3 separate regions of the Homo sapiens genome follow, and regions 2 and 3 are each linked to region 1. Evidence: fine-mapped expression QTL. A gene starts in region 1. Each other region holds a variant in brackets. All regions are shown on one strand. Distances are from middle to middle. Region 1 holds the start of CD200 (CD200 molecule). Region 2 has its middle 77 kb from the start of BTLA. Region 3 overlaps BTLA (B and T lymphocyte associated).

Evidence for each region. PIP is the estimated chance that this variant, and not a neighbour inherited with it, causes the effect. A credible set is the group of variants that fine-mapping cannot tell apart.
Region 2: its variant is the best candidate, but not a certain one, in a credible set for the expression of CD200 in whole blood (TOPMed, PIP 0.59).
Region 3: its variant is the best candidate, but not a certain one, in a credible set for the expression of CD200 in thyroid (GTEx, PIP 0.86).

What each region holds. Positions count from the first base shown.
Region 1 is chr3:112,328,246-112,337,368 of GRCh38, forward strand. CD200 (CD200 molecule) reads left to right here and starts at 4,911. Exons shown (of 6, transcript NM_005944.7): 1 at 4,911-4,979. The coding sequence starts at 4,968. It overlaps LOC105374042 (a long non-coding RNA gene), which reads left to right. Exons shown (of 5, transcript NR_147411.1): 4 at 1,101-1,141; 5 at 3,941-4,509. RefSeq lists enhancers at 4,578-5,535, 5,536-6,492, 6,989-7,748.
Region 2 is chr3:112,417,539-112,428,230 of GRCh38, forward strand. No RefSeq gene overlaps it. Among named protein-coding and RNA genes, the nearest start is that of BTLA, 77 kb to the right of the region's middle. RefSeq lists enhancers at 1-89, 90-943, 944-1,797, 5,214-6,066. The variant G/A (reference allele first, on the strand shown) is at 4,981.
Region 3 is chr3:112,488,088-112,498,779 of GRCh38, forward strand. All of the region lies in intron 1 of BTLA (B and T lymphocyte associated), which reads right to left. Among named protein-coding and RNA genes, the nearest start is that of BTLA, 6.0 kb to the right of the region's middle. RefSeq lists a silencer at 4,037-4,086 and an enhancer at 9,849-9,968. The variant C/T (reference allele first, on the strand shown) is at 6,001.

The sequences.
Region 1 (9,123 bases):
TGCCCAGCTAATTTTTTGTATTTTCTTTTTTTTTGAGACGGAGTTTCACTCTTGTTGCCCAGGCTGGAGTGCAATGGTGAGATCTCGGCTCACTGCAACCTCCGCCTCCTGGGTTCAAGTGATTCTCCTGCCTCAGCCTCCCAAGTCACTAGGATTGCAGGTGTCCACCACCACGCCCAGCTAATTTTTGTTATTTTTTAGTAGAGAAGGGGTTTCATCATATTTTGAGGCTGGTCTTGAACTCCTGACCTCAGGTGATCCACCTGCTTTGGCCTCCCAAAGTGCTGGGATTACAGGCGTGAGCCACAGCGCCCCTTTTTGTATTTTTAGTAGAGACAGGGTTTCACCATGTTGGCTAAGCTGGTTTCGAACTCCTGACCTCAAATGATCCTCCTGCCTCGGCCTCCCAAAGTGCTGGAATTACAGGGGTGAGCCACCGCACCCAGCCAGAAATTTTTTATATCTTAGATCCTTTACATACTAGATATAGATTACTTCTCCCTGTTTGGCATCACTCTATTACATTTTTCAGTTATACTGTTAGGGGAACAGAAGTATTTAATGGAAAACCAAAAGTCCACTTTTTGTGGATAAAAAGTAGATGGATTTAACAATGTTAAGTCAAACTATAAGTTGTTAATAAGTTTGAGTTTGGGGCATTGATGTCTTTATAGTGGAATTTCCTTCAGCCATAAATATATTATCCATTTATTCAAGTCTTTCTAAATGTCTTTTAGGAAGGCTTTACAATTTTCTCAATGTAGGTGTAATTTTTGCTAGGTTAATTCTTTGGTACTTTTAATTTATTCACTATAATTAATGATATTTTAAAAAATTTCTAGCTGGTTATTATTAGTGGTTTAGGAACATTTTTGGATTTTTTAAGTTAACCAATATTTGGAAACTGTGCTAAACTCTGTATTTAAGTTTTTCTGTTGATTTTGATTGTTTTTCATGAAGTTGATTCTCTCTCTTACAACTAATGACAGTTTTGCTTCTTTCTTTCCAATCGACACCTCTTTTTATATTTAATACCTGCAATAACAGTTATCTTTTTCTTGTTTCCGATTTAAAAGACCATGTCTAAAATTTCCTTACAGTTGAATATGACATTTACTGCAGTTTGATCACTAAGCATAAGGTTAGGAAATATTTTCTTATTCTTATCTCCTTTGCTTTTATGATAAATATGTTGTTGAACTTAAGAAAAAATTTATTGGTACTTGTTGAGATAATCATGAATTTTTCATAGCAATTTACTAATATAATAAATTATACTGACAGTTTTCTAATGTTAAGCCATTTTGGAAATTGTTCTGCTTTATATTTATAAGTAAAAGAGGACTATAATTTTATTTTCTTGGATTATCCTTTCCTGGCTTTAAAATTAAAATAACACTAGCCTCAAAGAAAGATCTTAGTAATTTTATAATTCTCCCTTTTGAACATGAATAAGATAGATCTATTCCTCAACAATCCTCTAGGTCTGTTATTTATTTATTTATTTTGCAAAACAAGTCTTTGATTTTGATTTACTTGCTTACTAATTTATTGGCCTATTTAATTTTTAAATTTTTATGGCCAATTTGCCACTTTCAGAAATTTATTCATTTTGTGTAAGTTTTCATATTACTGTTCACAATATTGTTTTGTTATTTTTGCTATTTGTTGCATCAGTATTAATTCTCCCTTTTCATTCTATATTGTTACTCTGTATTACAGTAATAATTTTCTGAGTATTACAGAAATAATTTTCTGAGTATTACATGCCACCCGTTTGATCAATTAATCTCTAAAAAAATTATATTTATTCTATTTGTGTTCGTTTTTATTGATTTCTGCCTTTAGTTTTATTATTTTTTTTCTTCTCATTTTGTTGAGTTCCTTGTTTGCTTCTTTTGCTCAATATTGACATCTGATATAGTTAAGGTGATATATTAATTCTGAATGCTCCTTTAAATCTGTCCAATAATTTTAAATGTCATTTTTTTCTTTTTCCTGCAGACCTTTCTTTAAAAAAAATTATGTAAGCAAATTTCTTCTTTTTCAAAGGGTTTTTAATACAATGTTTATGCTTCATTATGGCTGGGAGTTTTTCCCCTTTTGTTCACTCTTCTGTGTCCCAAGTCTCTTTTAACCTAAAAATGTTGTTTTTAAGCTATTTTTTTTTTTGAAATAGTGTTTCACTGCATCACCCAGGCTAGAGTGCAGTGTCTCCATCATGGCTCACTTCAGCCTCAACCTCCCGAGCTTAAGCAATCCTCCCATCTCAGCCTCCTGATTAGCTGGGACTACAGACATGTGCCACCATGTTCAGGTAATTTATTTTTATTTTTTGGTAGAGACAGGGGTCTCACTATGTTGCCCAGTATGATCTTGAACTCCTGGCCTCAATCATTATGAAACTGGTTGCTTAACTATATAATTTGAATCTGGATTTTAAAATAATAAATGTAAGATTTTATTTTTAAAAAATTAGAAAATAAGATTATGAGAGGTGAGGAGAATTATGCTAAGGTATACGTGTTGGGAAATTTAAGAAATTGACTTAAAAAAATAAATATATGCATTGTCCTTAGTAAGTTAGGAGAAAACAGCAGAATAATAAAATATAACTCTTAATGTAGCAAGATAATATTTAGCTTAATGAAAGATAAGACAGAAGAAAATATACTAAAATAAAATATAAAAAAATTAAAAGTCCTATTATATCAGTAATTACAACATACAAATAGGTTAAGGCCGGGTGCAGTGGCTCACAACTGTAATCCCAGTAGTTTGGGAGGCCAAGGTGGGAGAATTTTTTTTCCAAGTGTGCAGTTAATATTTCTCTAATAGAGGAAGGTTAAAAATAAAGTGATAGGAAAATATATGGGAAAAATAAATGTAATAGAATGATGTACATATGCTTGTGAAAAGACAGGTATAAGAATGTTTATAGCACCACTATGAAAAATGCTTCCAATTTGAAAAACAAAGAAATGTTAATTAATAGAAGAATAGATAAATAAATTGTAATAGACAGTATTTACAGAATAGGATACTATACATCAGTGAGAATGAATAAGCCACACTACAGGCAATAACATGGATGGATTTTTAAAATCTACTGTTGAGTAAAAAACCCAGAAACAAGTGAAGACATATGCTACGATGCCATTCATATAAAATTCAAAATCAGGTGAGCCTAGTCTATGGTGTTAGAAGTAGGAGAATAGGGGCCGGGCGCGGTGGCTCACGCCTGTAATTCCCACAACTTTGGGAGGCTGAGACGGGCGAATCATGAAGTCAGGAGATCGAGACCATCCTGGCTAAACGGTGAAACCCCGTCTCTACTAAAAATACAAAAAAAATTAGCCGGGCGTGGTGGCGGGCGCCTGTAGTCCCAGCTACTTCGGAGGCTGAGGCAGGAGAATGGCGTGAACCCAGGAGGCAGAGCTTGCAGTGAGCCGAGATCGCGCCACTGCACTCCAGCCTGGACGACAGAGCGAGACTCCGCCCCCGTCTCCCACCGCCCCCCCCCCAAAAAAAGAAGTGGGAGAATAGGTCAGGTGCAGTGGTTCATGCCTGTAATCCCACTGCTTTGGGAGGCAAAGGTAGAAGGAGCATTTGAGGCTAGGAATTTCAGGCCAGCCTGGGCAACACAAGACCCCGTGTCTGGAAAAAAAAAAAAAGCTGGACATAGTGGCTGCACAACTATCATTCTAGCTACTCTAGAGGCTGAGGTGAGAGGATCCCTTGAGCCCAGGAGTGAGTTATGATCGCACCACTGCATTCCAGCTTGGACAACAGAGCGAGACTTTGTCTGTAAAAAGAAGCAAAAACAAAACCCCAAAGCTTTGTCCCAGCTCCTTATGAGAGGGTGGTAGTAGTAAAACACAAAAGCCTTCAGGAGGTGAACACTTGATGATTTCTTTGTCCTTTTTTTTTTTTTTTTAAGAGCCAAGAACTCTGGAACAAGAAGAAGAAGACGAAGGAGGAGGAGGAGGGGGAGGGGGAGGAGGAGAAGGAGAAGGAGGAGAAGGAGAAGGAGAAGGAGACGGAGAAGGAGGAAGAGGAGGAGGAGGGCCGGGCGCAGTGGCTCACGCCTGTAATCCCAGCATTTTGGGAGGCCGAGGCGGGCGGATCACGAGGTCAAGAGACCGAGACCATCCTGGCTAACATGGTGAAACCCCGTCTCTACTAAAAATACAAAAAATTAGCCGGGCATGGTGGCGGGCGTCTGTAGTCCCAGCTACTCGGGAGGCTGAGGCAGGAGAATGGCGGGAACCCGGGAGGCGGAGCTTGTAGTGAGCCAAGATAGCGCCACTGCACTCCAGCCTGGACCACAGAGCGAGACTCCGTCTCAAGAAGAAGAAGAAGGAGAAGAAGGAGAAGGAGAAGGGAAAAAAGAATCCTCATCATTAATGCAAGTGGAAGGAAACTCTTCACCAAAGAATTGATCACATCATGAAAGGTGAAATCATTACGGAATTGCTTAAATATATAATTTGAATCTGGATTTAAAAATAATAAATGTAAGTTTTTTCTTTAAAAAAAAAAAAAAGTCCATTGGTTAAATTCAGCTTGAATCCTTTGCCACTACATCAAGAGCTAACAGGTCAACAACTGATCTCCACAACCTCCCACCTCATTTCCTTTCTCAGTCCAGGTAGCAGGAAAATGGAAAAAAAAAAATGATTTTTTTTTTCCAAACACTTTGTCAGTTTCCCCAGCGGTCACCTTTGAAAAGGGAAAAATGTCTGAAAATAGACAAAGCTGAATATAAACATCATTTAATTCCCCCCACACAGACAGCCTCCGCTCCTGTGAGGGCGTGGGGAAAACGGAGTGGGAGAAGGGGGCTAGCGAGGAGGAAGAGGCGGGAGGTGCGGCAGGGGCACAGGTGACGCTCCTCCCGCCTGCCTAGCAGAGCTCCAGGCGCACATCCGCAGTCAGCCACCTCGCGCGCGCCTCCAGGAGCAAGGATGGAGAGGCTGGTGAGCGGGGCCGGGGCTTGGGAAGGAGGGCGCAGGGCAGGCGATGTTGAGCCGGTGGCCCTGGGGCGGGCGGCGAGTGGAAGGCGCGGAGCTTCGGCTCTTGCCACAATCTGGTCCGGGGACTAGATCAGCGGTGTTGATGGCAGCGCTTTTCTCTAAGCGCTTTCTCTTGCTGAGAAACGGATTTTGCCTTCCAAAGGGTGGTTTACAGGCAGCTGCTGGCGTCCAGATTCTCCATTCCAATTGCCTGAAAAAAAGATGCACCAGGCCGGGGCTCCGGGGGCTCTTGATCCGCGCTGACGAAGCTGGCGCATCCTCCGGGCAGGCTCGGCTCGGCTCACTGGCTCCAGCTCCCAAAACTGGGGAGGCACAGCCTATTTTAAACTGCCCCCAAAAGGGAAAGAGAAATGCTGTATTGGTTCCATATTGGCACCAAAAGCTGCGGCGGAGATACAGATTTCCAGGCTCGCTTTCTCCGGGAGAGCTCCTGCGTCTCCTCTTTGTTATGCAGCCCCTTTCTCCCTCCTAGCCCTTGCCTGGGGGAAGCCATGAAGGATCAGTTAAAGCTGAAGCTACACTTGAGAGAGCTGAAATGCTCTGTGATCATAATGCTTTGAAGGGTTAACCCCGGGTATCTAGAGAAACAGACATTTTGTTTATTCGGAACCAGCTTACAAGACAAAAAACGGAGAAGGTTTTCATATATCCCATTGGTATATGAAATCCAAATACAATGGTATTGGTATAAGAATCCAAATACAGTGAATGCCTCAAGATAATTTTTTCATGTATGGTTTGTTGGCAAGACCACATAGCCAATGATTTCACTGTCTTTCTTAACAAAGGAGAATGGTGGTCTGTGAGCTACGGTCTACTGCAAGCTAGATGCTGTTAATCTTCTTTGTAACTATCCTTCTAAAAATGAATTATTACCTCGTTTTACACATAAACAGGCGGAAAGGCTGATATTTCCAAGTCCTTGTGACTACATGTGGGGTAATGTGGATTTGGACATAGAAACTTGCTGAGGAAGAGGCATGAATAGGGGCAATATAGCTACCAGGTGGGCAGCTGTCTGGTAAGACCCAGGTTTTTGTGAACCCTGGACTGCATGGCAAGGGTTATAAGTGGGCTTCTTTGTTTTCAGGACTGTAGTTCCCCCTATATGATTTGATCGATTAATTTTTTTAGCTACCTAACACGTATTGGCATTTACTATAACCTAGGCTCTATACTAAGTGCTTTAATTGCCTAATTCTCATAATAACTATGTGAGATAAGAGCAACATTTATTTAGTGCTTATTTCTACTGGCAGTATTCTAGGAGCTTTATATACTACTTCATTTAGTCTTTTTAACCATTAGATTGGTACTATTACTTTTCCGGAGTCTCAGAGAGGTAAAATGATTTCTTTTGCTCACAAATCTAGTATTTGTTTTAGCCCCGGTCACCTCCCTGTAAACATATAAATACTGTTGTTTTCAGATTGGTCGTATTTTCAGTTATTCTGCACAGACTCGAGGAAAAAAAAAACCTGTAAAATAAAAATACGTATCTATTTAAGAGTAAGGCTTTCCTTCTGATTTCCTTTGCCTCAATCACTGTGTTTTGTTTCTTAACATTGCTGGCTCCCAGTCCACAATATATGGTTTGGTATGTATCTGCTTTCTCTCTTGTCCTAAAACACAGATTTTCTCTATGAGAGCTTGTCCATTCTGCATTCTTCATCATGGCCTCTGGTAGAGCCTGGATTTCCACGTCAGAGAAGCCTAATGGTTTAAAAAATATCACATAGAATTGGAATGCCAGTATCTGTCTCCACAATTGCCTTAGCTGAAAATAAAACAAAATGTGTTGGGTGGGCACTGGCAATGGAGCCTGAGGAAATATTTGGCCTGATTTTTTCTGACTTTCCTAGATAATTAGATAGGATGGAACAGTCTCAGTAATACTGAGAAAATTATCGAGTTATATATTTTTTTTCACTTCAAAACCAAAGCCTTTGTGAGTATAATACCCAGCAGTGGATGGGCAGGGTGAGCAGATCTTTGTAGGCTGTATGTATTCAGGCAGCTGAACCATCTTGGGTTTCTCAAAGAGCAGTGACTATGTTATTAGTCTTAGACCTATGAAGACAGGAAGAGAAGTCACAAGGAAGGGATAGCATGCTTATGGTATGCTTGGGTATCGAATAATAAAATATATCTGCAAAGAATAATTTGTCCTAATGGCACCTTCAGATGATATAATCTTGAATTCTCTGTAGCCTTAGAGATGTAAGGAAAAAGCAACTTACATCACAAAGATCAGTATTACTGTGTACTATGATGCCACTGCATGGGGTCCAGGATGAGAGTCTAAGTGATTGGTTCTCTCTAGCTGAAGACAAGAAGACACTCAGGTATGTGGCAGCACTTGGGATAGGCCACAGGGCGGCGAGACATCATTCCTTCCAGGACATCTATCCTGAAAGATCCATCAGGAATACTGTGATGGAGATAGTGATGGAGACTCCTTGTCTCTGGCAGTTAGAGTGAATGCTGAAGAAGAGCCCTTTTCCAGCAGGCCAGTCTCTAACATGATCTTGGGTCTTCACCCAGACCATGACAGCTCTGGTGCTCAACACACACAACCACCTCCAGGGTACAAGTTGGCCCCAAGAGAGCTGAGACAATATTGGCTCTAATTTTTATCATCTCATTGATCTCAAACCACAGACTCTGACCAGGACAATTGGGGGCCCTCTCCTTACAGCTACACTCCTAGGAAAGACCACCATCAATGATTACCAGGTAATTTTCTACCCCTACCTATGAAGGGACTTGGTTAGTAACTTCTCTTGCTAGAGGAAAAATGAAGCTTATTATATAAGATTAATGTTTGTGAAACACCTGTTATTTGGAATTGGTTTGGTACTTCCTCTTGAAATTTCCCTCATTAAGTTTAGGTCGTGGCTGTTTCATAAGGAAAGAAAAGGGCATGTATTGACTGGAATTAAAATTAACAAATCCATTGAGTAGGAGGATATTAAAATTGAGTGGCTCCCATTGGACAGGAAAAGGAAGAGAAATCCTTGTGGCAGGTAAAGGAGGAGAGATTTAGATCCTTGAGAACTCCATTCCCGACCCGCTGCTCCTGAGCCCACAGGAAGAAGGCCATCACAAGACAATAAAAATCCCAGAGAAATTGAAAGGCAAACAGAAAGACCCAGCTTGGAGTGATAAGGAAAATGAATTCCAGCAGGGAAGTCATTGTATCTAAAAGGAATGGCAAAAATAGGGCTTAGTTAAGGCAAACACCGAGAATGAGGGGATGGGATTCCCACAGGTAGAACACCACCCTTTAGCAATGATCCTGACCCTAAAGCAAGGTCATTTAAGTGATTATGGGCCAATATTCTAGAAATAAGCTTCAAATTATAGTAGCAACAGATGGGGCTAAACAGGAGCCGATAAGAACATACAAACAACTTCAGAAAGGGATGCCCGTGATGGGTTCATTAAGGAAAAAGTGGTCAGGACATCCCGCTAAAGCAACAGGATTCAGTGGATATTGAGGTTCTTGGGGGGCAATGAGACAGGCACCAAGAGACCACTACTTTATGGAAGACTATGATCATACTGCTAAATACCATAAAAGAATAGACAGAGCCAAATAAGAGACTGTTTCTAATGAAACAAGCAGACAATGTCCCAACCTCAGGAATTTAACTCAGTCTGAAAAAGAAGAGTAGTTTCAAAACTGTCAAGCCTGCTTTAGTGCTATAATTTTTTTCACTGACAAGAGAGAATGAAAGACTGATAGCTGGGGGAGTGGCGGGGGGTGAGGGGTGTTGACAGGTAGTAAGCATGCTGGAAACAGTGTCTCAAGGTGTGGGGTATATGGTGGGTATATTTGGGAAGTAGTCATTTTCTCTCAAACTGGAAAGCAGATGGGTGTGTTCAGACAAGATCTGGAAGCTGTGGCATGGCAGACAAAGGGAGATGGGACCCCTTTGGCACTGGAGGAAGAGGCTTGAATCTTCTTGGAGCACTAAAAGTTCCAAAAGACCTAAGCAGAAAATGCTTCCGAAGAGGAGGATCTGTATGGCAAGATGACTGTAATCAGGCTCATAAAAGTAAGACCTTACATAAATACAAGTGA
Region 2 (10,692 bases), 90 kb after region 1:
AAGCAGCAAGAGGAGGGGAGCCACTGAGGAAAAGGGAAGTATGGAAAATCTCACACCCCAGGGACCACCCAAAACATGTAGGCTGGATATAAGCAAAGAGATGGGGAAATACTTATGTGGGAAGAATCGCCCCCTTAAGACACCCAGTAATCACCCACTCTGCAATTAACCTGTCGGAATGTAGCTAGCTACATGCTAATAAAGAGGGAAAGAGGGTGAAGGAGAAATTCCTAAGAGATATGCAGGCATAAAAAGTACAGATTTAACTGCCATACAGCCTTCCTGGGGTGATGGTAATGAGCAATGTAGCCATTAGGTAGAATTTGTGTCCAACACAAGGTCCACACATGCACGCCAACTAATAGACAGAATCCCACAAATCTGAGGCAGGAACTAGGCAGGGAAAAGGCAAGGACTTAAGGCAGCAGCAGGAAAAACTAGATGAAGGAAAAAGGTGGAGACTTAACACAGAGATGAGAACTTCAAGAAAAAATCCGTCATAAAAACCCAATGCAGAACTCTTGAGGCTACTGCTGGCTCATTCTCTGTTAGTAGCCCACTGTGCCTCATCTTTTGGAGTGTACTGTCTGTCTAAATAAACTCTGTGCTCTAATTTTGCTTCAATAAATTCTCTTTTTGGGCTAAGTGGTCTCTTGGTAGGATTCTTTCTTACAAGTAAGCCTAAGAACAGAGGACTCTGCTCTTCCCAGTAACAAAATCACATTAATTATTTCCATGAACTTGTCACCCAGGAGTATCTGGCTTCCCATCCCTGACACCTTTTAATCTCTCAAAAAACATTTGTCTGGGGTTATTCTACTCTTTTAATACTCCTATTAAACTCTACTATTAAAAAAACCAAACTTATTCATTTCATGCGCGTCCGTGTGAAGAGACCACCAAACAGGCTTTGTGTGAGCAACGTGGCTGTTTATTTCACCTGGGTGCAGGCGGGCTGAGTCCGAAAAGAGAGTCAGCGAAGGGAGATAAGGGTGGGGCCGTTTTATAGGATTTGGGTAGGTAAAGGAAAATTACAGTCAAAGAGGGTTTGTTCTCTGGCAGGCAGGAGTGGGGGTTGCAAGGTGCTCAGTGGGGGTGATTTTTGAGCCAGGATGAGCCAGGAAAAGGACTTTCACAAGGTAATGTCATCACTTAAAGCAAGGACCGGCCATTTACACTTCTTTTGTGGTGGAAGGTCATCAGTTAAGGTGGGGCAGAGCATATTCACTTCTTTTGTGATTCTTCAGTTACTTCAGGCCATCTGGGCATATACGTGCAAGTCACAGGGGATGCGATGGCTTGGCTTGGGCTCAGAGGCCTGACATTCCTGCCGTCTTATATTAATAAGAAAAATAAAACAAAATAGTGTTGAAGTGTTGGGGTGGCAAAAATTTTTGGGGGGTGATATGGAGAGAGAATGGGCGATGTTTCTCAGGGCTGCTTCGAGCGGGATTAGGGGCGGCGTGGGAACCTAGAGTGGGAGAGATTAAAATTTTAGTTTCCTGACTTGGGACATGTTGAATAAAGCTAATTTGCCAGTCCTGGGTGGGGGCAAATCCTCGAGCTTGATGTGTAAGGAAGGGAGGGGGCCTGAATAATCCCTGAGGAATAGTAGAACAGCAGATGGAACACTGAGAAATTATTTCCTTGAGGATAGATTTCCACGATGGAAAGGAAATGAGAGGTTCTGAGAGGCAGGCTAGTGGCTTGTACTATAGCATAGCCTGCCTTTGCTGGTGTGTGGCGATTAGGCCTGGTGGAACCACCATCAATAAATCAAGCGTGATCGGGGTGAGGAACAGGAAAGAAGGAAATATGGGGAAATGGGGTGAATGTCAGGTGGATCAGAGAGATAGTCATGGGGGTCAGGTGTGGTATCAGGAATAATGTGGGAGGCCAGATTGAAGTCTGGGCCAGGAACAACGGTAATTGTGGGAGACTCAACAAGGAGTGAGTACAGCTGAAGGAGCCGGGAAGCAGAAAGTATATGTGTCAGGTATGAGGAAGAAAATAGATTTTGGAAGTTATGAGAACTGTAGAGAGTGAGTTGAGCATAGTTTGTGATTTTGAGGGCCTCTAAAAGTATTAAAGCAGCGGCAGCCGCTGCACGCAGACATGAGGGCTAGGCTAAAACAGTAAGGTCAAGTTGTTTGGACAGAAAGGCTACAGAGTGTGGTCCTGGCTCTTGTGTAAGAATTCTGACCACGCTAACCATGCCTAGGAAGGAAAGGAGTTGTTGTTTTGTAGAAGGTGCTGGGGTTTGAGAGATCAGTCGGACACGATTGGCAGGGAGAGCACGTATGTTTTTATGAGAATTATGCCGAGATAGGTAACAGATGAGGAAGAAATTTGGGCTTGATTGAAGTAATGGGGGCTGTCTGTGAAGCTTTGCGGCAGTACAGCCTAGGTAATTTGCTGAGCTTGATGGGTGTCAGGGTCAGTCCAAGTGAAAGCGAAGAGAGGCTGGGATTAAAGGTGCAAAGGAATAGTAAAGAAAGCATGTTTGAGATCTAGAACAGAATAATGGGTTGTAGAGGCAGGTATTGAGGATAGGAGAGTATATGGGTTTGGCAGCATGGGGTGGATAGGCAAAACAATTTGGTTGATAAGGCGCAGATCCTGAACTAACTTGTAAGGGTTGTCTGGTTTTAGGACAGGTAAAATGGGGGAATTGTAAGGAGAGTTTATAGGCTTTAAAAGGCCATACTGTAGCAGGCGAGTGATAACAGGCTTTAATCTTTTTAAAGCGTGCTGCGGGATGGGATATTGGCGTTGAGTGGGGTAAGGGTGATTAGGTTTTAATGAGATGGTAAGGGGTGCATGATTGGTCGCCAAGGAGGGAGTAGAGGTATCTTATACTTGTGGGTTAAGGTGGGGGGATAGAAGAGGAGGACGCAAAGGAGGCTTTGGATTGGGAAGAAGGGCGGCAATGAGATATAGCTGTAGTCCAGGATAGTCAGGGAAGCAGATAATTTAGTTAAAGTGTCTCAGCCTAATAAGGGAACTGGGCAGGTGGGGATAACTAAAAAGGAGTGCTTAAAAGAGTATTGTCTAAGTTGGCACCAGAGTTGGGGAGTTTTAAGAGGTTTAGAAGCCTGGCCGTCAATACCCACAACAGTTATGGAGGCAAGGGAAACAGGCCCTTGAAAAGAAGGTAATGGGGAGTGAGTAGCCTCCGTATTGATTAAGAAGGGGACGGGCTTACCTTCCACTGTGAGAGTTACCCGAAGCTCGGCATCCGTGATGGTCTAGGGGGCTCACGAGGCGATCGGGCAGTGTCAGTCTTCAGCCACTAAGCCGAGAAGATCTGGGAAGGAGTCAGTCAGAGAGCCTTGGGCCAGAGTTCCAGGGCCTCTGGGAGTGGCTGCCAGGTGAGTTGAACAGTCCGATTTTCAGTGGGGTCCCACACAGATGGGACGCGGCTTAGGAGGAATCCTGGGCTGCGGGCATTCCTTGGCCCAGTGGCCAGATTTCCGGCACGTGTAGCAAGCTCCTGGGGGAGGAGGTTCTGGAGGAACGCCTGGCCACTGCGGTTCAGGTGTTTGGAAGTTCTTGTGTGCTGGAGATGTGGCTGGGGTTTGTCTCACAGTGGAGGCAAGGAACATTGCAACTTTTTTCTATTATTGTACGCCTTGAAGGCGAGGTTAATTAAATCTTGTTGTGGGGTTTGAGGGCCGGAATTTAATTTTTGGAGTTTTAGTGTCAGGAGCAGATTGGGTAATAAAATGTATTTTGAGAATAAGACGGTCTTTTGCCTTTTAGGGTCTAGGACTGTAAAGTGTCTCAGGGTTGCTGCCAAACAAGTCATGAACTGGGCTGGATTTTTATATTTGATGAAAAAGAGCCTAAACGCTATCTGATTTGGGATAAAGAAAAAGGAGCATTAATCTTGACTATGCCTTTGGCTCCAGCCACCTTTTTAAGAGTAAATTGCTGGGCAGGTGGGGGAGGGCTAGTCACGGAACGAAACTGTAAGTCAGACCAGGTGTGAGGAGGGGAGGTGATAAAAAGATTATAGGGTGGAGGAGCAGAGGCTGAGGAAGAATTGAGACCTAGCTCAGCCTGGCGAGGAGCAGGCTGGGGAGGAAGGGAGAGGTCAGATGGGTCTGTAGAAAAGGAAGATTAGAAAGACTCAGCAACACTTGGGGTTGGTACTGAGCGGACAGGCGGGAGGGAAAGAAGGAAGATTTGGGACGAGTTGCACTGGGCACAGAGACTAGGATGGGACTGATGTGTAAAAGAATGCCTGGACGTCAGGCACCTCAGACCATTTGCCTATTTTACGACAAGAATTATTTAGATCTTGCAGGGTGGAAAAATTCAAAGTGCCATTTTCTGGCTATTTGGAACTACTGTCGAGTTTGTACTGGGGTCAAGTGGCATTGCAGAAGAAAATAAGGCATTTAGGTTTTAGGTCAGGTATGAGTTGAAGAGGTTTTAAGTTTTTGAGAACACAGGCCAAGGGAGTAGAAGGAGGAATGGAGGGTGGAAGTTTGCCCATAGTGAAGGAAGGAAGCCTAGAGAAAAGAGAGTAGAGAAATGGAGGGAAGGGGTTCGGGGGTTCTTACCTTCCAGAAAAGTGGGAAAAGGGGTTGGAGCACAGAGATAAGAGGTCAGGGCACAGAAATAAGGGATGGGGCGCAGAGATATGAGGTTGGGGTGTGGAAATAAGGGATTGGGGCACAGAGATAAGAGGTTGGGGTGCAGAAATAAGGGATTGGAGCACAGAGATAAGAGGTTGGGGTGCGGAAATAAGCGATTGGGGGGTTCTTGCCCCCTAGGAAAGCAGGACTTGCCGCTAAGGGTGAAGGAGAAGGGGTTGAGGGGTACTTGCCCCTGCCCCAGGAAAGCAGAGAAGGGGTAGAGACAAGGAGAGAAGGGGTTGAGGTACGTGCCCCTTCCCCAGAAAAGCGGGACTTGCCGTTAAGGGTGAAGGACCAAGGCAGGCGTCCCTGCGTGTTCTGACACCCTTGAAACGTG[G/A]GTGTATAATCAGAGAGGCATCCCTGCAATGATTAAACACCAAGGGAAGGCTGCCTTCCCAGTCTGTGACCGGCGCCGGAGTTTTGGGTCCACGGATAAAACGTGTCTCTTTTGTCTCTACCAGAAAATGAAAGGAATTGAAATTAAGAGAAGGGAGAGATTGAAGTGTAGCGCCAAGATTGAAAGGAGAAAGAGGTTGAGGGATAGTGAGGGAAGTTGGAGAAGAGAGTAAAAAGAGGCCGCTTACCGGATTTGAAATTGGTGAGATGTTTCTTGGGCTGGTCGATCTCAGGACCTGAGGTCGTAGGTGGATCTTTCTCACGGAGCAAAGAGCAGGAGGACGGGGGATTGATCTCCCAAGGGAGGTCCCCCGATCCGAGTCACGGCACCAAATTTCATGCGCGTCTGTGTGAAGAGACCACCAAACAGGCTTTGTGTGAGCAACATGGCTGTTTATTTCACCTGGGTGCAGGTGGGCTGAGTCCGAAAAGAGAGTCAGCGAAGGGAGATAGGGGTGGGGCCGTTTTATAGGATTTGGGTAGGTAAAGGAAAATTACAGTCAAAGAGGGTTTGTTCTCTGGTGGGCAGGAGTGGGGAGTCGCAAGGTGCTCAGTGGGGGTGCTTTTTGAGCCAGGATGAGCCAGGGAAAGGACTTTCACAAGGTAATGTCATCACTTAAGGCAAGGACCGGCCATTTACACTTCTTTTGTGGTGGAATGTCATCAGTTAAGGTGGGGCAGGGCATATTCACTTCTTTTGTGATTCTTCAGTTACTTCAGGCCATCTGGGCATATACGTGCAAGTCACAGGGGATGCGATGGCTTGGCTTGGGCTCAGAGGCCTGACAATTCACATATATAGCATTGATGATTCTAAAAGCCTTATTTGTTTATCTTTCACATTGATATGTAATTGTTCTGAAATTTATTTTTGTGAGGAAGAAGTTGATATGTGCTTTTTCCATGTGAATATCCAATGGTCCCATCCATTTCTCACTGCACCGCTATATCATATTTTTCATAAATCAGATGAATCTGCTTCTGAACTCTCTATTCTCTACCATTGGTAATTTTAATCTATATTTGAGCCACACTGTCTTAACTACTAAATATATATAAGAGTATAATTAACTATGGTTTTTAACAGATCTTTATGTTTAGTACAAGTCCTCTAGTTTTTTTTCTTCTTCTTCCTCAGGCTTGCCTTGCCCATTTCTAAACTTTTACATTTTCATATAAATTTCAGATTAATGTTATCCATTTCTGAAAAACAAAAACTCCTGCCAGTATCTGATTGAGATTGATTTAGTAGTTTAAATTAAAACTGTATGACAAAATATTTTGTAACCATTAAAATTATACACACAATGAATTTAGGAAAACTCAAGAAAAACATTTTTAGTAATATTAATAATAGCAACTAATATTATCCTAAGCATCATACATGAATAAATTTATTGAATTGTCATGATAACTATTTCAGAAATGTATTACCCTTACCATTTCCTAGTTGAAGAAATGACAGCTCAGATATATGATTTAGATTATGCAGTGTCACACAGTGAGTGACAGAGCTGAAAAATAAATCCTAGTCTGTACTCATGAAAAAGTCAAACTTTTAGTCACCTAGATTTTTAAAAAGCGTATTGAATGGAATTCTTCCTAAAATAAATTATAAACCTGTTTTGCCTTTTTGCAAACCTAAAGAATACAATCATATATTTTCATTTCCATTTCTGGTCATTATTATGAATATTAGTGATTTGCTTAAACCACAATACAGTGTTATCCTAGGGCTCTATTATCATACCTAGGATTATTTTCTGTTGCATTAAATTGTCTGAAAATAATGCAATCTTTCTTTTTTTAGCTTCTCTTTTGGACTTTTCTAACTTAAGTATGTTAACTTAACTCTTTCCACTTGTTTCTTGCTGTGTGTTTTTAAGTTGATTTAATAAACCATGTAATTCAAGCATTTTAATCTGGTCCATGAGGCTTTCTGGTATTTCTGGTCTGGAATAGCTTTCTTGAAACTGTACTTGAAGGCAGTCATCACATGAAGGTAATTTCCTGCAGAACAGCTAAGTATAGCAAAGAAAATAAATAGAAAGAGTGGAGTCTCTGATGACGCAGTTTGACAGGTGAACCAAGCAATCTACTTGCCAAACAGGATAAAAAAATCTTTCTCTGAGCTGGCATATTACAATATTTAATGAAATATTTGTATCTGATGACAAATGAATAAATTTTAAAATATATTTTATGTTAACCAGATGCCTCAAAACATAACACTTTGCCCAACTTTTGAAATAACTGATAGATTTATCTTGTATTCATGAACTGTTGTACTAATATTTTCCAAATATTCTGGCTTTAGAAAAATTTAATAATAGGCTTCTATTTCAAGATGAAAGACTTGCCATACATGCTTATCTTTCATAATCCCTGAGTTTCCACTGAAATAATAAAATAGCTTAAAGTATTATAAATATGCAACCAAATAAGGAGAAAAGACAAGCACATTAAAAAAAAATGAAAGTTTTTAAAAAGTTATGACAGATAAAAAGTAAATAAAGGAGTAAATGATGTAACAGGATGAAGAAAACGTGGCCTAGAAGAGAGATGGCTCTAGAAGAGAGGAATGCAATGAATTTTGAGGCAGAACTCTGGAGAGGCCCAGAATTCAAACTCTGAAGTTGTCTAAATGAAACTCTGAATCCAGGACAATTGAGCTCATACTACATTCCCCAACTTTTCCAACCACATGTAGAAACATGGACAGTCAGATAACTGTATCCTATGTAAAAACATAAAAATAAAATTAAAATTTTAAAAAATCAAAGTGTTCTTTTACAAAGAAATTGAATGAATTATCTGAGATTACCTAAGGCAGAGTGATCGGACATCAATTTTTCCAGAGCAAAGACCTCAACATGTGGGCACTGGGGGTCTTGAAACATACTTGGCCTGCTCCCTTTTATTTCTGTAATGTGAAGACTATCAGTTAATAAGCCCACCTACCTTTCCAGAGCAGCCAAGTGTCATGCATTACTACCAACTATTTGAGGAAATACGGTAACATGAAAGAAAGATACAGCTAAAAACAAAAAGAAGAAAAGCCTCTAATCACTTAACTTAGGAGAAAGAATGATTAAAAAAAAAGAAAGAAAACTTAAGAACAGACAAAATTCTAGTTAGTTTCTGTAAAGAAACTTGAAGAGTTTTCATTTATATAAAATAAACAGTGGAGGCCATGAAGAAAGACAAAAAACTGTTGGAAATTAAAAGTATGATAAAAACAAAAAGAAATAAAAATAAAAGAAGAATGAATTAAAAGAAAGATAAAACCTAAGAAATATCTGGATAGAAGAAAGAAGAGATTAAAACTGAGCAAAACATGAAAGAAAAAGAAAATTAATTTAGAAGACCCAGTGAGATACCAAGAAATTTCAAAAAAAAAAATTGACAGAAAGAACTTATCAAAGAAAAAAATCATCAAAAAAATTGAGACACTAATTTTGCAGAAGTGAAACACTGAATGCTACTACTGAATGCCAAAAACAATAAATGAATGAAAGCCCATGCAATACCCTCATGGATGTTAGCATACCAGAGAAATGGGTAGAAAATAAAATAAAATGAGATTACCTAGTAATAAGAATAAGACGGTGTCTTAGTTCATTTGTGTTGCTATAAAGGAATACCTGAGGCTGGGCGATTAATAAAGAAAAGAGGGTTACTTGGCTCACAGTTCTGCAGGTTGTACAAGAAGCATGGTATCAGTATCAAGCATGGTATCAGCATCTGCACCTGGTGAGGGCCTCTGAAAGCTTCTCTTTGGGGGAGAAGGAGAAGTAGAGAAGGCATAATATGAGAGAGAGGAAGCAAGAAAGAGGAGGAGGTGCCAGGCTCCTTTCAACAGCCAGTTTTTCCAGAAACTAAGAATAAGAACTCACTCACTTTCACAAGAATGGCACTAAGCCATTCACAAGGGATCCACCTCCATGATCCAAACACCTTCTACCAGGCCCCACCTCCAATGTTGGGGATCAAATTTCAACATGAGACTTGAAGGGGACAAACAAACTATATCCAAATCTTAGCAGAGGGCATCAAATTTCTTAAAGATCCCCAGGATTTGTAAAGCACTCCAAAGTCAGGGTAGGAATGGAGTTAGGAAATAATGCAATTATAGGTGAGGGAAACAAAAATAATAATTAATCAAATTCAGAAATAAATCATAGAAAATTTCCATGGAGTCAATAACAGCAATTCCTAAATTTCTTTACATTAAGTCAAAATATATAATCCATTAATTTTAATTTTTTTTTTTTTTTTTGATACAGAGTCTCACTCTGCTGCCTAGGCTGGAGCGCACCTCCACCTCCTGCATTCACGCCATTCTCCTGCCTCAGCCTCCCGAGTAGCTGGGACTACAGGCGCCCGGCTAATTTTTTGTATTTTGTTTAGTACAGATGGGGTTTCACGGTGTTAGCCAGGATGGTCTCTATCTCCTGACCTCATGATCCACCCACCTCGGCCTCCCAAAGTGCTGGGATTACAGGCGTGAGCCACCACACCCGGCCAAATTTTTTTAAATATATTTTCAATTCTGCTAACTTGGTACCCTATGTCCCCTGACAGATCTTCTAGTTTAGAACAGTTCAGGTTACTACTTTGGTTTAAATGTGAGCCCCAAAATTCAAGTGTTGGAAAGTTAATTCCTAATGCAACACTGTTGAGAGATGGGTCGTTTAAAAAGTGATTAGGTCATGAGGGCTTTGCCCTCGGCGGTGGATTAATATTGCTGAGTGAGCTAGTTATCATGGGAGTGGGCTTTTGATAAAAGGATCAGTTCTGCCCTCTTCCCACTCTCTCATGAATGCTCTCTTGCCTTTCTACCTTCCACCACGTGATAATGCATTAAGAAAGCCGTCACAAGATTTTAGCCCCTCAGTCTTAGACTTGTCAGCCTCCAGAACTATGAGAAATACATTTTTATTCATCGTAAATTGCCTAGCCTTTAGTATTCTGCTAGAGCAGCATGAAACAGACTAAGAAATTGGTACTGAAAAGTGGGGCTGTTTTTACAAAAAAAAGTCTGAAAATGTGGAAGTGGCTTTGGAACTGGGTAATAGGGAGAGGCTGAAATAATTTGGAGAAGCAGGCTAGAAACAGCCTAGATTGCTGTGAGTGGAGTGTTAAGGGCAACTCTGGTGAGGGCTCAGAAGAAGACGAGCACTATAGGGAGAGCCGAAATCTTCTTAGGAATTACATAATTGGACATGATCAGAATGTCGGTAGACCTGTAGACAGCAAAGCCACTCCAATTAGATCTCAGATGAAAGTAAGGAACAAGGTATTGGAAAATGGAGCAAAGACCTTCCTTGTTATACAGTTGCAAAGAAATTGGTGGAATTTATGTCCGTGTTTTAGGACTTTGTGGAAGACAGAACTTAAGGATAATGAACTATGTGATCTTGTGGCCCAGTGGTAGCGCATCTGACTCCCAGAACAATGAACTACGGTACCTGACAGAAGAAATATCTAAGCATTGAAGCATTCAAAGTGCCACATGACTTCTTTTGGCTGCTTACAGTAAAATGAATAAAAAAGAAAAATAGTTTAAAGAAGGAATTTATAATTAAAAGGGAAGCAGAAAGAAAAGATTTGGAAAATTCTCAGCACGGCCATGTACAGAATAAAAAGGTGT
Region 3 (10,692 bases), 160 kb after region 1:
CTTAATTTGGATCTCATTCTGTTTCATGTGGATTATTGTCACAGCGTACCAAATGGTCTTCTACATTCCAAACTTGGCCTTGTTTCCCTCCCTCCACCTCAATTCTCCACATCACTGTCACAGTTTCCGTTTTCTTTTTTCTTTTTTTTTTTTTTTTTGAGACAGAGTCTCGCTCTGTCGCCCAGGCTGGAGTGCAGTGGCGCAATCTCCGCTCACTGCAAGCCTCCCGGGTTCACGCCATTCTCCTGCCTCAGCCTCCTGAGTAGCTGGGACTATAGGTGCCCACCACCACGCCCGGCTAATTTTTTGTATTTTTAGTAGAGACGGGGTTTTACCCGGTTAACCAGGATGGTCTCGATCTCCTGACCTCGTGATCCGCCCGCCTCGGGCTCCCAAAGTGCTGGGATTACAGGCGTGAGCCACCGCACTGGGCCTAGCCCAGTAAGTTTATGCAAACTTACCATACCCTCATATCCCCACTCCCTAGCAAATGTCTGATGCTATTTTGTGTGAGATGCATCACTCCTTTTTTGTTGTTGTTGTTGAGACGGAGTCTCGCTCTGTCACCCAGGCTGGAGTGCAGTGGCGCGATCTTAGCTCACTGCAACCTCCACCCACCGGGTTCAAGCAATTCTGCTGCCTCAGCCTCTGGAGCAGCTGGGAATACAGGCACCTGCCACTGCGCCCGGGGAATTTTTATATTTTTAGTAGAGATGGGGATTCACCATGTTGGCCAGGCTGGTCTTGAACTCCTGACCTTGTGATCCACCCGCCTTGGCCTCCCAAAGTGCTAGTATTACAGGCATGAGCCACCGCACCCAGCCGACATGCATCACTCTTTATAACTACATATGTGTTCATGTTTCTGTCTTCTATCTAGTCTGCTACTTCCTTGATGGTGTGTTACCTTTCTATGTAGTACTGGTTGCACAGCAGAGACAGCTAAGCCCTTAGAGAGGTGGGCTAAAAGGCACTGAGGTGAAGAACATATGCAGCTCAACATACCTTACAGTGGTTAAGTTATAACTACCAAAGAAAAGCTAGACTTTACAAGTATTCAGTTTGAAAAGGCCTGATTTATGTCCACTCAGGGGTGGATATTAAAAATATTTAACAAGTGACACTCCATGGCCATCCAGCTACACAGATCAGCTGATCAGAAAGGAGTGCCAGCCACAAACAACTGTATAGTCTCGTAACTCCCAGCTGAGCAAGTGTAGTTGCTGAGCTGAAGAGAGTAGGTAATTTTTGAAACCAATCAGCCATTTAAAAAAAAAGAGGGTTATGATTATGAATATTTTATAAAATATCATTATTTCTTATTTTTAAATACCATATGTTTTGATTATAACCATTATCATGAGGAAAATCTCACCTGAGTTTCACTATGTCTCCATTGAAAAATTCTTACAAATTTATGGAAACTTCAAAGTGGTTGCAACCATTCAAATAAATGAATGACTGTAATGAATGCAGATTGCCTTAACTTGAGCTAAGAAAGTGTCAGAGTTTAACATAGAAATTAAACAAATGATTTTTTGAGAAACTAAAATGATTACTAACGGTATAATAAACCAATAATTTTCTGTGACATCAACCAGGATTTTAGCTTCTATCAGAAAATACTATCACAGACAAACAACAAGCAAACCAAAACTTCAGACGCATGCTGGGGAGGCTACAGAAGGAATGAAGTCTTTACACTCAGGAGCAAAAAGGCATCCAGATGGTATGTTCTGCCTTACTTTAGAAGGCTGGAATGGTAGAGAGGAGGGGAGAGATGATGGCCACCAGGGAAGGGAAATAATCTGTCTCTCAAATCTTCCCTTGAAATTAGAGTTTAGGGATCCCATAAGGCAGTGGTTTGTACATAGTCAGGGCAAATCCACACACAGCAATAGCAGCCATGGAACCATACTTCAAGGATCTTGGGAGGACATTGACTTGCATACCTTGGGAAATCACACGGACGACATCAGAAAACCCAGGTAGCATACTTTCCCATCATAAACTAGCTCACATACACTCACAAAATCAGAAATGTGGTGACATGAGGTTAGGGTGGGGGAGTTCCACCTCATATAGAAAGTATTCATTTAATGTATTATGTAATGTCTATTAAAGGTATTACTTTAACTCTGTGGTAAATAAACCACTCCATAAGTCAGATATTCTCAGAAGTACTAGGAATACCTGGAGAAAATTAAGTAAGTATGACACACACAAACATATGTTAAAATCAGAGCTTCTTTTGTAAAAGTGACTATTGTTACTTTAAGGAAAACCCTGTGATTGTTCTCACGAGTACAGTGAAAACTGACTGGCCCTCAGTCCCTTCTGTAAAATGAAAGTTTATTTACATATGTCTTTCCTGAAAAACAACACTAAAGATACAGATCATAGACAATACAGATCACAGACAAGGATGTAGTATGCAATAGTAGATTTAACTTATTCTCTGTGGATATCACCTGATATTGCTCTTTAGACAAGAAGAGCCATTTTCTCCCTGGGTAAACACACACACACACACACACACACACACACACACACAATGTAAAATTTCCTTCACAAAAATGGAACTGGAAAGTATTAATGCCAAGAATACACAGGGCATAAATCTACATTTATGCCCATTATTTAAAAAAAAAAAGCAACCATGAAACAAGAAAATTGAGAGCATTTTCACAATCATCTTTTATTATTATTTCCTCTTAAAAATCCCCTTCTTATAAAAACATATCTTCTTATATTCATTTATGAAATTTTTCTTTAAGTTTACTTTCATATGGTATTAGCACACTTTAAAGCAATTTCTTCTACAGTTAGAATTTCTCATTGTTAGTGTAGTATGACTATTTGGCAAGTAAATTTGAAGACTGATCTCTTCAATGCAGTTGTATTGAGCCACTGAAGACTTTAAGCTCTGTATCTCTTGATTTTATCATGTTTGAAATAATTCTGAACTTGTTTTGTCTAAAATCAGTCATTCTAGTATTTGTCATTGCTTTTTCCGACATTTAGCAAAGCTTACAAAGTCCCCATGTCATTTCCTCTCCTTGAGATATTTAAGAGTAGAACAAGAAGAGAACCTTAGAGGTCATGAGGTCAGATGCCCAATGGAAAGTTTAAGTTACATTTAGGAGATCACCTCTAGAATCACTGCTACACATTCTTTGCCACTTGCCCACAGGTACACTCCACCTCACATTATCTATATACTGTAGACCCAACCTAGATCCATCTTAACACGAGGAAAAAAAGAATATGACTAATATTTTCAAAGTTCTTATTATGAGGTAGGCACTTTTAGATACCAAACATGTATTGTTTCATTTGACCCTCACAATGATTTTATGAGGGAATTACTATTATGGCCTTTATTTTTTTAAGTTGAGGAAACTGGGTATTAGAGAATATAAGCCACTTGCCCAAGATCACCAGCTGGTAGGAGGAAGAGTCAAGGCTAGGACTTTAACCCAGGTGTGGCTAACTCCAAAGCACAAGCTCTTATCCAGTAGGGTTGTTGTGAAAGCAAATGAGAACATATAGGAAATATTCTTAGCACTATGCTTGGCACATAACAACAACATAAAGTACCAGATATTATTATGTTTTCTGATAGGATGAATTTAGGGAAATCACACAGAAGTTGAGTCATTGTCCAGAGGTGTAAAGCCTATGAATGGTAAAGACAAGATGGAAACACAGAAGACTCTGCTGTGAAAAATTACCCCCAACAACCATTCTAGGGATCAGCAGTGGTGCATAATAACTAGTATATACACCAGGCAAAAATATATCTATATAATAGAGAGAAGAAAGGCAGCACATCCAATATAAGCATGCTCTTCTTTTATGTGGGAGAGGAAACTCTACAGAAATATATTAACCAGCAAGGCTTGCCTTGGTCAAAACTAGAATATTGAAAAAAACTTTGTCCTTTGATAATTTTCTAAGCTTGCTTTCAGGACTTCTTCATTACATCTCTGCCAAGTCACAAATGTCCCCTTGCAGATCTACCCTACTGGTCACTGACTTTGCTTCTCTAGGCCAGAGGATTCATATGCATTGCACTCCTTAGAGCCCTGTCTACTCTGTGTAACAAGGATGAGTTTCTGGTGGTTTTAGTTGGTCAACATGTAATTATCGCCCTTGAATAGTAAAAGCTTCTAGTCAACTTAATGAGTCCTAAAGAACAATGATTTAGAGAGACTTTGATTGCCTGTTACACATAGGCCCTGTCCTTCAGAGAGGCTAAATTTTCCACCTTTGTCACAGGGATTTCAGGAAGAAACATAGGGCAGCAAATGTAGACAGCATACCTGAGAAGCTGTTGACAGTAGCATCAGTGAGTGCCTCTGGCATTTGATCAGAAACCAACATGAGTATTTCTAAATATTGACTTCAGTGGAAGGATTGTTACTTGTGATGTTCAGATTAAGTGTGGCTTATGTATTATGATTGGAAAGGGAAAGTCCATCTCTACTTTCTTCCCAGATACTTCCTCACATCTCTAATACATTCTACCACAGACATCACACTGAGATTCACTGGCATTTTCAAAGCCCTTGAAGATACTAAACAATACTTATGTGGACAGAATCTGCTAAATGTCTTCCAATATTAATTCTCATCTTCTAATATTATAGAGGAAAATGAAGTGGGGCCATAACCCCCCAGATAAAAATCTCAATGCCCCAGCCTCCCTTGTAGCCAAATACTGGATAATAGGCCATTTGTGATGTGTGTGAGTTCCAGGTTGTGCTTATAAGATGAACATGGTTATCAAGAAGGCAGAAAAAAGAAATTAAAGAGCTCTGCCAGCTAAACTTGATGTTTTCCTGGGACTGATCTAACACTCTTCTGGACTCTGTTCTAAGTGAATCTCAAATTGTATGACACCTCTGCATGCATACACACAGACACATGCTGCACACAAGCCACTTCTTCCATTGAGATAAACATGTAAATCAGGTCCATAACCATGAGAGTATACCAGAAAGGTACAAAATATTGAGCTTATTTTGAGGTAAGAGAATGGAGAGTATTAGAAAAGTGAAGCAAATCGCATATGATACAATTCACTGACACAATACAACTCAAGCGCATGATTCTCAAGCACTATTAGCTTTTCTTGGTGACCAAGGATAAGAGTAGATAATGCTTTTGGCATTTTTCTCACAAAGTCTTCATGACATAAATGCCAAAAGCAATTGCAACAAACTGAAGAACTTCTGCACAGCAAAAGAAACTCTCATCAGAGCAAAAAGGCAACCTACAGAATGGGAGAAAATTTTTGCAATCTACCCATCTGAAAAAGGCCTAATATCCAGAATTTACAAGAAACTTAAATAAGTTTACAAGAAAAAAACAAACAACCGCATCAAAAAGTGGGCAAAGGATATGAACACACAGTTCTCTCTGTTTTTTTTTGGAGACAGAGTCTCACTCTGTTACCCAGCTGGAGTGCAGTGGTGCAACCTGGCTCACTGCAACTTCAGTCTCCTGGGTTCAAGCAATTCTGCCTCAGCCTCCCAAGTAGCTGGTCTTACAGGCGTGTCCCACCACGCCCAGCTAATTTTTGTATTTTTAGTACAGACAGGGTTTCACTATGCTGGCCAGACTGCTCTTGAACTCCTGACCTCAAATGACCCGCCCTCCTCAGCTTCCTGAAGTGCTGGGATTACAGGCGAGAGCCACTACACCCAGCCTAAACAGACACTTCTCAAAAGAAGACACTGGCTGGGCGCGGTGGCTCACGCCTGTAATCCCAGCACTTTGGGAGGCCGAGACAGGTGGATCATGAGGTCAGGAGATCAAGACCATCCTGACTAACACGGTGAAACCTTCTGTACTAAAAATACAAAAAATTAGCCAGGCGTGGTGGCAGCCGCCTGTAGTCCCAGCTACTCGGGAGGCTGAGTTAGGAGAATGGCATGAGCCCGGGAGGCAGAGCTTGCAGTGAGCGGAGATTGCGCCACTGCACTCCAGCCTGGG[C/T]GACAGAGCGACACTCTATCTCAAAAAAAAAAAGAAGACATTTATGCCACCAACAAACATAAGAATAAAAGCTCAACATCACTGATGGTCAGAGAAATGTAAATCAAAACCACAAGGAGATAACATCTCACGCCAGTCAGAATGGTGATTATTAAAAAGTCAGGAAACAATAGGTGCTGGCAAGTCTGTGGAGAATTAGGAATGCTTTTACACGGTTGGTGGGAGTGTAAATTAGTTCAACCATTGTGGAAGACAGTATGGCAATTCCTCGATCTAGAACCAGAAATACCATTTGACCCAGCAATCCCGTTACTGGGTATATACTCAAAGGAATATAAATCATTCTACTATAAAGACACATGCACACGTATGTTTATTGCAGCACTATTTACAATAGCAAAGACACGGAACCAACCCAAATGCCCATCAATGATAGACTGGAAAAAGAAAATATGGTACATATACACCGTGGAATACTATGCAGCCATAAAAAAGAATGAGATCATGCCCTTTGCAGGGACATGGATGAAGCTGGAAGCCATCATCCTAAGCAAACTAACACAGGAACAGAAAACCAAACACTGCATGTTCTCACTCATAAGTGGAAGTTGAAAATGAGAATATATGGACACAGAGAGGGGAATAACACAAACCAGAGCCTGTTGGGGAGTAGGGGGAGAGGAGAGGGAACTTAGAGGATGGGTCAATAGGTTAAGCAAACCATCATGGCACACGTATACCTATGTAACAAACCTGTACATTTCTGCACATGTATCCTGTTTTCCTTTTTTAGAAGAAATAAAGAAAAAAAAGAGTAGATAATAATATCAAGAGTAATTTATAGAAGACTTTTGTGAACTCCAAATTTTTATTTGTGGTTGATTCCCAATTGTCACCCAATGTTACTTTAACAGGACTATTAAACTAATGAAATGTTGGACTAAAAGAAAAAAAATTAGCTAAATATACACAGCACTGAATGGCATGCCATGCACTATTCTAAGTGTTTTACAGAATTAATTCACTTAATAGTCACAACAACCTTATAAGATTATTCTCCCATTTTTTTAGATGAGAAAACTGAGAACCAGAGATTTTATAGTCACAAAACCATTAAATGGCAGACATAGGATACTAATCCATGGAGTCTGGCTTTAGAGTCCCTGATCTTAGCCACTATACCACACAGCTTCTCCAAGGAAAAAAGAAAATGATTATTTTTTGGACCTGATTACAAATGCCTGTAAATATTTTTCTTTTAACAATTCTGAACTCTACATAAAGATGAAACTCACAAATAATGGAAATTAAGTAGGAAAGTCCCAATGAGGCAAGATAAATAGTTTTGACGTCAACTTTACAATAGAGGAAACTTTGGTAGTAGGACAGAGGAAGCAAGAAATTTAAAAACTTCTCTGTGATAGGAAAAGTATATTCAAGGCTGCAATGAGCACAAGGTTAATCTTTTCATGCTTTAATTCAAGAAGTCCTGTAACCACAGAATGCATTCCTAAACATTTATTTAATATATGGCAGGCATTGTTGTAACAATACATAGGCACTTGGCAGAAGACAGAGCTCTATCTCTAGCATTCCTCCATATGCACATTTCAATAAGAACAAATAGCTGAAGCCATAGAAATATGCCTTATAAAGATACTGTGCTACAAAACCTGAACTTCAAGGAATGATATTTTTTGACCCAAAGATATGGCCAGTTTGTAGTAGAGCAAAACAATCTGTGTGGGATGTGGAACACGGTGTTTAAAAGCTGGTCCATGGACCATACTGGACCATCATAATAAAGGGAAAAAAATGACACAAGCCAGACCAAAATGGAGACATAGCCCTAACCACTGTATTCTCAAAAGAGCCAGAATACAGGTGTCTTTCCCTTACTGAACCAGACTAGGATTGCTTTTTTTAAAAATCACAATAACCAGTAATCAATCAAACAGTTCCAACTGCCTTTATTCTGCATCATATATGGTGTTGGTGATACCCAGACATTAACTGCAGTGTTCCTGCCTGCCTAAAAGTGGAATCCTTGGTTGATCCTCAACTGAACTAGGGTCTAGGGCAGCCTCAGACAAATGGTCCAGGATGACAGGGCAGGCAATGGACAGAGACACTTCCACTTGCAGTCTAGATCTTGCCAGCATGATCTGCCCATGAAGGGAAGATATTGACATTTTTATTACTTCTATCAGGACAGAAACTGTATGCCACACACTGAGGGGCAAGTTTCTCTAATTTTTTAGAGAAACACAAAAAGTAAGCAAGCATACTTTTGTAATAAAGAAGGACCTTAAACAGGAAGTTTGTAGAGAACATTACATTTTTTCCAGCCTTATTATATATGCAGCCTCACTCCTAGGAACAAGGACACGGATCTCACATTGCTTTGAAGTAGGGGGAAAAAATCTTCAAAGGCTATCTTTAAACACTGAAAATGTATTACTGTAAAGAACTCAGCAATTAAGTAAATCACAGGAAATCCCCAAGATATAAGGTATTTAATGTGGTTTTAAGAAATGGAGCCATCAGCTCTGCCTGGGAGAACAAATTTCACCAAATGTTCCTTCTCTTAACCTATAGCTTTAATTTAATGCAACTGCTGCTGCAATCCATTATATCAACTGGTATATATCTGACCAGTACTTCACTCAAGTCTTTCCCTTTTTTTTTTGAGTGCAGTGGTGTGATCTCAGCTCACTGCAACCTCTGCCTCCTGGGTTCAAGCTATTCTCCTGTCTCGGCCTCCCGAGTAGCTGGGACTACAGGCACCTCCCAACACACCCAGCAAATTTTTATATTTTTAGTAGAGACGGGGTTTCACCATGTTGACCAGTCTGGTCTTAAACTCCTGACCTCAGGTGATCTGCCCGTCTTGGCTTCCCAAAGTGCTGAGACTAAAGGCTAGGGCCATGGCTCCCAGCCATATTTCATTTTCTGAATAATTTGATTCACTATATTTTGGGCTAAATATATTGCAAAATATATTGTACTTATTTATTTTATTTTTAACTTTAAAAACTCAACTATTTTAAATAATAATGTTAAAACATAATTCTCATTTAATTACATAGAGGTTGCATGGTGAAAATAATTTAGGAAAAATACCACTAACATTTACTGAGCTTTAAATACGTGCACTTACTATGCGAGGCACTTTACCCATATTATTGCATCTACAGTCTTCACAGCAGCCCCATAATTTAGGTACAATTATTACCTGTATTGTACAAATGAGGAAACTAAAGAGAAGAGAAGAGACTTAATCAATGCCATACAGTAAGTGGCAGAGCCAGTAAATTAACCCAGTTCTAACAGCCAAGTTCACTTTTGCAAATGCTAGGTTGCACATTGGGAGAAATAAAGGTCTTACCCCACCATCAATGTGGTTTAGCACTGAAACTCATTGTTCTTAATTTCATAGAGAGTAGTTTATGTATCCTTCAAATGGGGAAGAAATCTATTTAATAATATTTGACTCCAGTTGTAGCTATGTGACTGTAGGCATCTGATGGAAGGTGGAAAATTCAGTCAACCATCTAAGCACCTAGTTGACTTAATACTAGATACTTACAAACATAAAGATGTTTGAGTAACTAAGGACTTTTTTACTTTGCACTTGGTTGTGTGGCATCCTGGCATCATAGAGACATATTCCAAACTACACAGTTTAAAATTATAGATAGACTTTCCATAGAACCTCAGTGGCCAGATTTTCTAATTTAAAATTGCAGTAGCCAAACTGATAAATGTGTGCTTGTAGGGAATAATAAGACAGAATATTTAAAACCTGAAAAATCACTGGGCATGGTGGCTCATACCTGTAATCCTAGCACTTTGGGAGGCTGAGGCAGGTGGATCACTTGAGGTCAGGAGCTCCAGACCAGCCTGCCCAACATGCATTGCATCCATAGCTTGGCTGACTTTCTTAAAAAACAGGTTGATGGCAAGAAAAGAGAACTGAGTAGATGTTATAAATAGTTAAGTACAAATCTATCACTACTTCTTGCGAAAATGCTCAGGCTGCCACACTGATGATGAATAGATAGCTCGTTCTTCCCAAACTGAGTGCAGTAGAGTGTTGCAGTGCTCAGTTGGGTAGGACAGATGTTGGATAATTGGGGTTATCCAACATCTCTACTAAAAATACAAAAATTAGCTGTGCGTGGTGGAAGGTGCCTGTAATCCCAGCTACTAGGGACGCTGAGGCAGGAGAATAAATTGAACCCGGGAGGAAGAAGAATCGATTGAACCCGGGAGGCAGAGGATGCAGTGAGGCGGGATCACGCCATTGCACTCCAGCCTGGGTGACGAGAGCAAAACTCTTGTCTCAAAAAAATAAAAAAATAAAACCTGAAAAATCAGAAGCTTCTGATGAGCCACTCATAGGCTTTTCCTCTTGATAATATGTGGGTTCCTATGCAATATAAGGTAGGAAGCGACTTTACAATAAAAAAGAAATTGCCTTTTTTTTTTTTTTTTTTTTTTTGCCTGTATAAAGTCTTTGCAGGGGTGGCTAAATATCATCTTTGCAGAATCCAACTTATTTTCTGTGTTCAATTGACAACCAAGTAGGAACCATTCCCTTTCAACAAAATAGAAGCAATGACGAAAAGTTCTGCTCCTATATTTTGTAGCATTTTCTCAATCGGTATTCTCAAGGCATACATCCCAATG